Linked DNA regions of Homo sapiens. The protein of the gene in region 2 purifies or fractionates together with the protein of the main gene of each other region. This does not show direct contact. Each region holds a gene or a part of one and is shown on either strand. Other genes may lie near its edges.

The links.
Region 1: the proteins of POU5F1 (region 2) and IBTK purify together in Homo sapiens (affinity purification with mass spectrometry, with the first as the bait; one large-scale study listed by BioGRID). This does not show direct contact.
Region 3: the proteins of POU5F1 (region 2) and PDCD7 purify together in Homo sapiens (affinity purification with mass spectrometry, with the first as the bait; one large-scale study listed by BioGRID). This does not show direct contact.

The regions. Positions count from the first base shown.
Region 1 is NC_000006.12:82,169,351-82,172,134, forward strand, and holds the end of IBTK (inhibitor of Bruton tyrosine kinase), read right to left. Parts: intron 2,207-2,784; coding exon 2,075-2,206; 3' UTR 637-2,074; downstream 1-636. UniProt on the Homo sapiens protein: Acts as an inhibitor of BTK tyrosine kinase activity, thereby playing a role in B-cell development. Down-regulates BTK kinase activity, leading to interference with BTK-mediated calcium mobilization and NF-kappa-B-driven transcription.
Region 2 is NC_000006.12:31,168,491-31,172,245, forward strand, and holds the start of POU5F1 (POU domain, class 5, transcription factor 1), read right to left. Parts: upstream 2,193-3,755; 5' UTR 2,131-2,192; coding exon 1,726-2,130; intron 1-1,725. UniProt on the Homo sapiens protein: Transcription factor that binds to the octamer motif (5'-ATTTGCAT-3'). Forms a trimeric complex with SOX2 or SOX15 on DNA and controls the expression of a number of genes involved in embryonic development such as YES1, FGF4, UTF1 and ZFP206.
Region 3 is NC_000015.10:65,120,254-65,123,873, forward strand, and holds part of PDCD7 (programmed cell death protein 7), read right to left. Parts: intron 1-3,620. UniProt on the Homo sapiens protein: Promotes apoptosis when overexpressed.

The DNA.
Region 1 (2,784 bases), about 51 Mb from region 2:
TGCAGTCAGCCAAGATCCTGCCACTGCACTCCAGTCTGAGTGATGGAGTGAGATTGTGCCTCAATTAAAAAAAAAAAAAAAGAGTTCTGTAATTGTTTTCATAAATCTTAAAGATCTCTCTATCCCACTGATATTTTAAATTTGTCATTTCCAGTATTTATTCAATTCTATCAGGTCTTTTTGAGGTTATGGAATTAGAGATGAATACTGTAGCAGAATAATGTTATTTTGTTAGGGGAGAAAGAAAACCCTTATCACTTTCCTGGGCTTTTTGACAGCAATGTGTCAGATAGCTATCTTCATGGAATTATTTATGAAGAAATACAGTTTATGACAGTGTTTCTCTTTAACTTTACTAGCAAAAGAACTCCTTTTTTCCCAATAAAATTATATATAATACCTCACTACATAAAACAGACCATAAAGTGCAACTGCTCTGGTTGTAGTTTGTAACTGCCTAAAGCCTCACAGATGCGGTTCAGCTCTTGCCCCTCTTTCACACCCCATCCAACAAAGACCCCCAAGAGTGCTTCCCAGGCAGCACGGAGGACAGCAAGAAAATCATCACTTTACAGCATCTGTAAATATTAAAGATGTCAACATATACAGAAGAATCAAAGCTTCAAATGAAATCAATTACTTCAAAAGGCTTCTTTACTGCAACATCAATAGAACATTTATAAAATTCATTTCTCAATTTACTCAAACACACATACAAAAATTCACAAGTTCATATTTAGAAAACTGCCTTTTTAAATCCGTCTTAGAATAAATACAGCATCAACTTAACCATATACTGGCCACTAGTGTAGCACATCAGAAAAAATAATTATTAACTCTTTCCATAATAAATGTCAATATAGTAAAAAATGTCAAGCACACATTAGTGAAATGGATCAAGATCATTTTTTATTGCACATCTGCTTACATGTCTGCTGCTTTTGGGCAGAGTTAAACCTGACATATTGAGTCAGTTTCCGTCATTTTACATCAACTAAATTATAGCAGTGAATTGCTTATGTGTCTCCCAGGCTTACCTTCCAGAAACTAGAACATTAACCTTTCCAATTTATCTAGGTACTGAAGCACAAATTTAACATTTGTTTTTGCAAAATTTAAACACTCAGAAACAAACCAAACAACATCCTATACAGAAAACAATTTTTATGTCTAGATATACAATTGAGGTTCAGAGAACTTCTGATTATACAGTATTGTAAAGGTAATGATAATCCAACCCTCTTCCAAACTATTTAATTCCTGTATATGTAATTAAGCATTTATTTTCAGAAATTTTAACACTTTCAGCAATTGATTCTCTCACAATTAGGCATTTTTAAGATCCTCCATCCCACCAAAAATAACCCACAATGACTCCAAATCTTGTTTTTCTTTTTTAAAACGCTATTCTCTTGGGACTAAACTGTTCAGAATAATCAGTATTCTTATTCCCTTTCCACTGTACTCTACTGCTCAATGCAAAATGGAGAATATGTGGTCCAAATAGAAATATGGCATTTGTGCAGGTCAAGCTTTGAAGAGACATGGACCACATGATTAGCCTGATTTTTAAAAAGCAACAAGAATGGTGACACAACTATTACACCAAACACAAAATTCTGGCCATTAATGAATCAGAAGTAATAACTGATGCTCCTACTTTAAATTCATCAATGCCATATTTAAGAAGTCAAGCAACAACACATACTTGGCAAAATCTTCTAAATTCTCAAGTTATCAAACAAAAAAGTTATTTTTAATACTTTACCCCCCTTATATCTTATGATTCAATCACTTATATTTTCCTTTGTTAGATTATTCAGAAGAAACAATTCTATTTAACCTTAATAAGTTTTTGTCTCACACATTTTATATAAAGTTACTAAAATCACAATTCTGAGAAATTTATTTTTAATCATACAAACATTATATGATTTAACTGCAGTAAAGAAATTATATCTTTTCTTAATCTATTTAGAATGATATTACAAAATCTCTAAGACTCTTTTCCACAGCTTTTCTTTATATGAACAAACTCATAATTATGTAAAATGCATCTCAACTCCACAGTGAACTAGCATCCATGCTTATTCCACATAGGTACTGCCAGTGGTCCCTGCGGTGTCCTTTCAACAATGACAAACTCTTCAGGGTTGCCAAATGCCTCATAGAAAACCAATAAATCTTGTATGGCATGCTCCTCAATCTGAAAGGAGGAAGGGAAAGAAGACTCTTTACTCTTTTAATTATAAACTAAGCAGGATGTATTTGCCTTCCAATTTCCTTTTGAGGAACTATCACTTTCCATGGATACAATACAGTGAAATTAAATCAGGTATCCTGCATTTTAAATCAGGTATCCTGCTATCTCTGTGGCAAGGAGAAAGCTTGAGGTGTGAGGTAGAATCATGAGATACCCATGCGCTCTTCAATTTGAATCTTGAGCAGAAGGAAAAAGAAACTGAAAATGGTTGCTAAAATTCATTCATTCCAATAGCTTTATTCTGTGAGATACTTTCTGTTGTTGTACAAGTCTTCTAAATCTTGCTTCTGAGCTTTCCAGTGCTACTATGCGTCTTTTCTGTTTCCAAGCCTGGCTGTCTGGTCTTTCAGCTAAGTCTATGGAATCTTAATATCCCTCAAATAAATTATCTTTTCCTTAAGTTAGCCAGAGTGGGCTTCTGTTGCTTACAATCTTAGAATTCTTACTGATACAGAAGCCAAGTGCAGCACTAGAGAATACTGCCAAATTCTCTACTGGTCATTTTAAAAAAACTAAAATAA
Region 2 (3,755 bases):
TCCCAAAGTGCCTGGCCACACCTTTTAAAACACTGACTCTAGTTGACGTGTTGGCCACAGACAGTAGGGAGGAAGCAGTATAATTTGAGAAGCTACTGCGGTAATCCCAGCAGAGATGATGGTGGCTGAGGCCAGGGTTAGGTTGTGATTGATTCAGGATGTTTCTTAAGGATAGGATGTAGGACATGAAAGAAACTGAGGATGACTGGGTTTGGCCTTGAGCAACTGGGTGATCAGGGTGGAGCAGTTCAGGGAGCCATCACAAGAGACAGAAAACGCGGTAGTCATCTGGTGTCTAAATGGCATTTAAGCCTTGAGGGTGGGTGAGAGGAAGGAAGGGTAGATAGAGCAGAGGTTGAAGGACTGAGCCCTGGGGCATGCCATATGAGGCTGCCGGCAGACAGAGGTGCACAGCTAGTGAGAAAAAAACAAGGCCTTTTTGTAGTTCTGAAGCCTCAAGGAAGTGTTTCAATGGTGCTTGATCATATCAATTTCAAATAGGCTGTTTTCATCCCCAACTTCTGCTCAGCCAATAACTCAAACTGATAAATGCCCTCTGCTATCTTGGATTTTCCAAATTCTGTTTTGGGGTTTTGGAATAAACACTGGTCCAAATCCTCGCTTCATCATTTAGCAGTTAAAACCCGTTAAATAGGATAATAATACCTCCCCCTAGGAGATTTTGTGCTGGTTAATGAGATAATGATGTATAAACGGAGCACACAGCCAGGCACTTAGGAAGTGGACCACAATTGCCAGCCATTATCATTCAAGGCTCAGCAGTGACCTCCTGCGAAGAGGTTGGGGCTTCTCGGTCACTCCAGAAACCAGTCACACCTTTCTGTGAGGTCTCAAGGCTTAGTATTTAATCTCTAATTGCTTACACTTGTCGCCTTGAAGGACTGGAAGATACATCTTTAATAGTCCTCAGCAGGGCTGGATGCCTTCAATCCCGCAGCAGCTCTATATTTGCAAATGGCCTGGAGAAATCTCTCACCATTTTTCTTGTTTACAACTTTGGAACTGAGGCTGAAGTCAATCAAAATCCAGCTTTCTACAAGGGGTGCCAGGGTGTGCACCTTAACACAGTGGCCAGTCATTGGCCTGAGGCAGAGATCCGGGGAAGACAAGCCCTATACTTGACTGGAGGTAAACCCAGCTCACAACGCGCACACACACAGCCCAAACAGGAGATCCTATCAGAAACGAGTCACACCCTAGACTTTCAGGAACAATAATCCTGGAATGAGCACTGTTTTTACCCTCAGGCTATGCTTAACCCTAAGGCCAAAATCTTGGGTCTGATAAGGGTCAAATTTTCAAGCAGGACTAAGGGTGGGAAAAGGGGCTCAAACCAACCCCAAGCTGGGTCTGGTGCTGGGCCAGTAATGAGTGACCAGACCCTGGGCAGGCCTAGGAGATGTGAGAGACCCTGACAAGGGCTGGGCCAGAGCAAAGGCCAGCCTGGGCCAGCTTCCGACTCTCCCAGGCTGCTCTGCCCTCACCGGCAGTTGTCTCTTCGAAATCCAGCTTCCACTTCCCACCTGGCCCCTGCCTGCCAGGGCTGCCAGCAGTTGATACACACCCCTCCCTGGCCAGGGCAGCTGACCCTGCCTGCTCCTCTCCTGGGTGCCAGGTCTGGGCAGCTGCAGGTGACCACTTCCCCATCAGGCTGCCCTGTCATGACCACCTCCCCACACCCCAACCCCGTCGAAGCTCACTTGCCTCCTCCGGGTTTTGCTCCAGCTTCTCCTTCTCCAGCTTCACGGCACCAGGGGTGACGGTGCAGGGCTCCGGGGAGGCCCCATCGGAGTTGCTCTCCACCCCGACTCCTGCTTCGCCCTCAGGCTGAGAGGTCTCCAAGCCGCCTTGGGGCACTAGCCCCACTCCAACCTGGGGCCCACAGTACGCCATCCCCCCACAGAACTCATACGGCGGGGGGCATGGGGGAATCCCCCACACCTCAGAGCCTGGCCCAACCCCCGGCCCGATTCCTGGCCCTCCAGGAGGGCCTTGGAAGCTTAGCCAGGTCCGAGGATCAACCCAGCCCGGCTCCGGCCCCCCTGGCCCATCACCTCCACCACCTGGAGGGGGCGAGAAGGCGAAATCCGAAGCCAGGTGTCCCGCCATGGGGAAGGAAGGCGCCCCAAGCCGGGGGCCTGGTGAAATGAGGGCTTGCGAAGGGACTACTCAACCCCTCTCTCCCTCCCCAGTCCCACCCACTAGCCTTGACCTCTGGCCCCGCCCCCTGGATGGGTGGAGGAGAGGGAGGTGGGGGGAGAAACTGAGGCGAAGGATGTTTGCCTAATGGTGGTGGCAATGGTGTCTGTGGAAGGGGAAAACCGGGAGACACAACTGGCGCCCCTCCAGGACCTCAGTGCAGGTCCCCCACAGAAACTTTTTTTATTTTTATTTTTTAAGACAGGGTCTCACTTTGTTGCCCAGACTGGAGTGCAGTGGAGTACAATGATGGCTCAATGTAGCCTCGATCTACTGGGCCAAAGCAATCCTTCTGCTCCAGCCTCCTAAGTGGCTGGGACTACAGGCTTGGACCACTGTGCCCTGTTAGTTTTTTTATTTTTAGTAGAGATGGGGCCTTGCTATGTTACCCAGGCTGGTCTTGAATTCCTGTCCTCAAGAAATCCTCCCGCCTCTGCCGCCCAGTGTCATGATTAAAGGCGTGAGCCACCACACCCAACTTTCAACTCCCAACCCGCTCCCTGGCACTCTCTCAGGCTCTGCACATCCCAGCTGTCTGGAATCACTCCCACACCTCCATGTTCTTCAGGAACCCAGGTGCTTGACCCCCTCTCCACAGACCTCTGGCACTGTGCCTTCAGGGGCCAGTCACCCTCTCAGCTCCTCAAATTTATTGAATGTGTGTGTGGCGCTATCCCTCAATGCATCAACAGCCATAAGCACAATGGCCAGCTGCTCCCTTATGCCTTCCCCCGATCCATCCAGAATCCTAGGCATTCCCATCCCGATACTGGCCAAATCCAGCCACCCCGCAGCCTGGGTGCCTGGCACCATCTGCCCAGCCTGCCAAATTTCACCCCATCTTCAAGAGTAGACTGCCAGACAAGGCCTCCGTGCTATATCCCCCCACCCCCCCATCCCCCCACCCCTCCGTCTTCCAGAATCAGACTCCAGACTCTCCTCATCTAACAGACTAAGGGGTTGGTCCCTACTTCCCCTTCAAGGGACCAGACTTTGGACTGACTGGGCCTCAGTTTCCCAACCTTTGCTGAAACAGAGTGATAAGACACCCGCTTTGGGCCCCCTCCACTATGGAACCTGCACATCAGGTTCCTTGCTCCCCTCTCAACCAAAACTCAGACATCTAATACCACGGTAGGCCCCGTTCTCCCTCCCCCACCTCCCTGGCCCAGGCCTCCAGCCCTAGGCCCTGGGTGGGGAAAACCAGGGGGTGGGGGGTGTGGAGAAAAAATATCTGACTTCAGGTTCAAAGAAGCCTGGGAGGGACTGGGGGAAGGGGGCAGGACAATGGCCTTGGCTGGACAATCCCGGTCCCCAGAGGGGGCAGCTCTAACCCTAAACAAGTGCTCAACCCTTGAATGGGCCTGGATGGCTCCCCTGGGGACTGCTTCCTGCTCCCCAACCCCCCAGTCCCAATCCCCTCACACAGAATCCCCTTCAGAGACGCTAAAAGGAGCTCCAGCAACCCCCCTCTGCAATCCCCTCAAAGACTGAGCCTCAGACGGGCACCAAGGGCCCCCCACAGGGACCTAGGT
Region 3 (3,620 bases), on a different chromosome or scaffold from region 2:
AGATCCTCCCACCTCAGCCTCCCAAGTAGCTGGGACCACAGGCACGTGCCACCACATCTAGCCAATTTTTTTTTTATTTTTGTAGAGACAGGGTATCCCTGTGTTTCTCAAGCTGGTCTTAAACTCCTGGTCAAGCAATCCCCCTGCCTTGGCCTCCCTAAGTGCTGGGATTACAGGCATGAGCCACTGTGCCTGGCCCTACCTACTAATTTGTAAATTTTTTGTATGAGGTCTCACGAGGTCAGGAGATTGAGAACATCCTGGCTAACACGGTGAAACCCCGTCTCTACTAAAAATACAAAAAATTAGCCAGGCATGGTGGCAGGTACCTGTAGTCCCAGCTACTCGGGAGGCTGAGACAGGAGAATGGCGTGAACCTGGGAGGTGGAGCTTGCAGTGAGCGGAGATCACACCACTGCACTCCAGCCTGGGCAACAGAGTGAGACTCCGTCTCCAAAAAAAAAGACCAAAACTTTTTTGTATGAGGTCTTGCTATGTTGCCCAGGCTAATCTCTAACTCCTGGCCTCAAGCAATCCTACCAGCTTGGCTTCCCAAAGTGAGCCACTGCATCCAGCCCAAATGGCCTTTTACACACGTTTTCTTATCCCAAAATTTGTGTTATAATGAGGAAGTTTAAAAGTCCTAGCTATAGTATGTATCGGTTAAAATTTAGAAATTTTACCCAATCTTTTAAGGCTCAATTTGATGTTTCTGAGTATTCAATTACTCTGACCCTACCCTGACTTTCTCAACTCCTCCCTCTGGATCATCCACACCACTTAACCTCTGACTTTCTTTCTTTTTTTTTTTTTTTTTTTGAGATGGAGTTTCATTCTTGTTGCCCAGGCTGGAGGGCAATGGTGCGATCTCAGCTCACTGCAAACTCCACGCATCCCGGGTTCAAGCGATTCTCCTGACTCAGCCTCCTGAGTAGCTGGGATTACAGGCATGCACCAACACACCCGGCTAATTTTTGTATTTTTAGTAGATGTTTCTCCATGTTGGTCAGGCTGGTCTCGAACTCCTGACCTCAGGTGATCCACCCACCTTGGCCTCCCAAAGTGCTGGGATTACAGGCGTGAACCACCATACCTGGCTTCGACTTTGTTTATTTCTAATGGTCTTGATCCTCCACTTGAAACAGTGAGCTCACTAAAGGGAGGAACTTGTCTTAACTTCATTGTTTGTGAAATTCCCTTAGCATCAACTCCCAGATCTAATTAATAAACAATTCTTCCTCTGACTGAGTGTGAATTTTGGGAGTGCACACTTGGATGGTGAGGAAGATACACTTAAAACAACCACACTGACCTTGCAGTCTGCTGCTGACAGTAGGCTGACCAACTGTTTTGGTTTGCCTGCATGTAGCACTGAAAGCCCCAAGTCCCAGTAAAACTGGGATGGTTATTATCCTGATTTAACTATGAGGTCAGCTAACAGTATAGCCAACATATCTAAAGCCACAGTGGAGAAAATAGTCAGGTTATTAGGTGATATCAAAGAATTACTGCTAATTTTTTTGGTGTGACAATGGTATCATAGTTGATGATGAGTGTTTATGTATTCTATTTTTGTGCATGTGTGAAATGTTTCATAAAGTTTCATAAGAAAAAAAGATTTTAACTTAATGAATATTTGAGTGGACTGCAATTGTGCACTCACTACCATAATGGCCCTGTAATACAAAAGCTTCCAGGTGAATCAATGTAGAGTGATGTGGATGTGATCTATCCTGTCAGTCCTTGAAGATTTTAAAGGAAAATATGTTACCCAAGCATTTTAGCAATACCAGATACAGGGCCAAGCGTGGTGGCTCACACCTGTAAACCTAGCACTTTGGGAGACTGAGGCAGGCAGGTTGCCTGAGCTCAGGAGTTCAAGACCAGCCTGGCCAACATGGTGAAACCCCATATCCACTAAAAATACAAAAAATTAGCCGAGCATGGTGGCGTGCGCCTGTAGTTCCAACTACTCAGGAGGCTAAGCCAGGAGAATCGCTTGAACCCAGGAGGTGGAGGCTGCAGTGAGCCAAGATCATGCCACTGCACTCTGGCTTGGGTGACAGAGCAAGACTCTTATCTCCAAAAAAATAAATTTAAAAAAAAAGAATACCAGATACAAGAAAGAAAAAAAAAATCCTAATCCCATTACCATAATCAACCATTTTATACTTTCTCACATTCTCTTCAGGTCTTTTTGTCCATGTATTAGCAACTTCATATAGTTCAACGTTACATGTATGTAATTTCCACTTCTCCCTGTTGATTCTGTACGTTCTTCTCCAATCTTCATAATTATTTAATGGCTGTATCCTATTTCATCAAATCAATACACTAGAATATACTTATCAAGTTCCCTACTCCTGGACACCTAAGCTATTCCAAATGTCCTGTTATTATATTGTGATACAATGAATATTCTTGGGCATGTTACTTTTTTCCTTCCTAGGGATTTCTATCAGAAAAATTCTTGGCCGGGCAGGGTGGCTCCTGTAATTCCAACACTTTGGGAGGCTGAGACGGGTGGATCACGAGGTCAGGAGTTTGAGACCAGCCTGGCCAACATGGTGAAACCCTGTCTCTACTAAAAATACAAAAATTAGCCGGGCGTGGTGGCAGGTGCCTGTAATCCCAGCTACTCAGGAGGCTGAGGCAGGAGAATCGCTTGAAACCAGAAAGCGGGGCTTACAGTGAGCCGAGATCGCACCACGGCACTCCAGCCTGGGCAACAAGAGTGAAACTCTGTCTCAAAAAAAAAAAAAGAAAGAAAAATTCTCAAAAATGGAAATGTTTGTGAATACTTTCAAGACTAACAAACTGTGTTCTAAACTGCTTCCTAAAAAAGCTATATATTTGCTCAGTTACCAAACACTTGACACAGAGAAGGTAATTAATAGATACTTCTTCAATGAATGAATGATTTTCAACAAGGTTTTTTTGTTTGTTTTGTTTTGAGACGGAGTCTCGCTCTGTCACCAGGCTGGAGTACAGTGGCGCGATCTCACCTCACTGTAACCTCTGATTCCTGGGTTCAAGCGATTCTCCTGCCTCAGCCTCCCGAGTAGCTGGGATTACAGGCATGTGCCACCATTCCCAGCTAATTTCTGTATTTTTAGTAGAGACAGTGTTTCACCATGTTGGCCAGGATAATCTTGATCTCCTGACCTCATGATCCTCCCACCTCGGCCTCCCAAAGTGCTGGGATTACAGGCATGAGCCACCATGCCCGGCCCTTCAACAGGGTTTTAACAATTTATGCTGCAACTTGTGTTATACAATAGTGCCAGCTTTGAGCACTAAATTTTCAGTTTGGGCTGATAAATGGCATAAATAATGGTTTCTCAAGGTTAGTAGTTCTGTTTCTTGTAAAGTTGTAATTTGGAGGTAGGATTCTTTCCTCCTTCAACCACTACAGCTAAGTGGTTGTGGAACTCACTCTCAAGGCTAACATTTCTCTAGATGATTTTCTCCTAACTGCTTTGCTTCTACAGGTTTCCATTCACTCATTCTCAACTACAGAAACACTACAACTCAAATTTATCTTCTACTAAGTTGCCAGGCCAGTGTTTTTCAAGTATACACAAAATTCTTATACACTGACAAATTTAAGCTGTCACTCT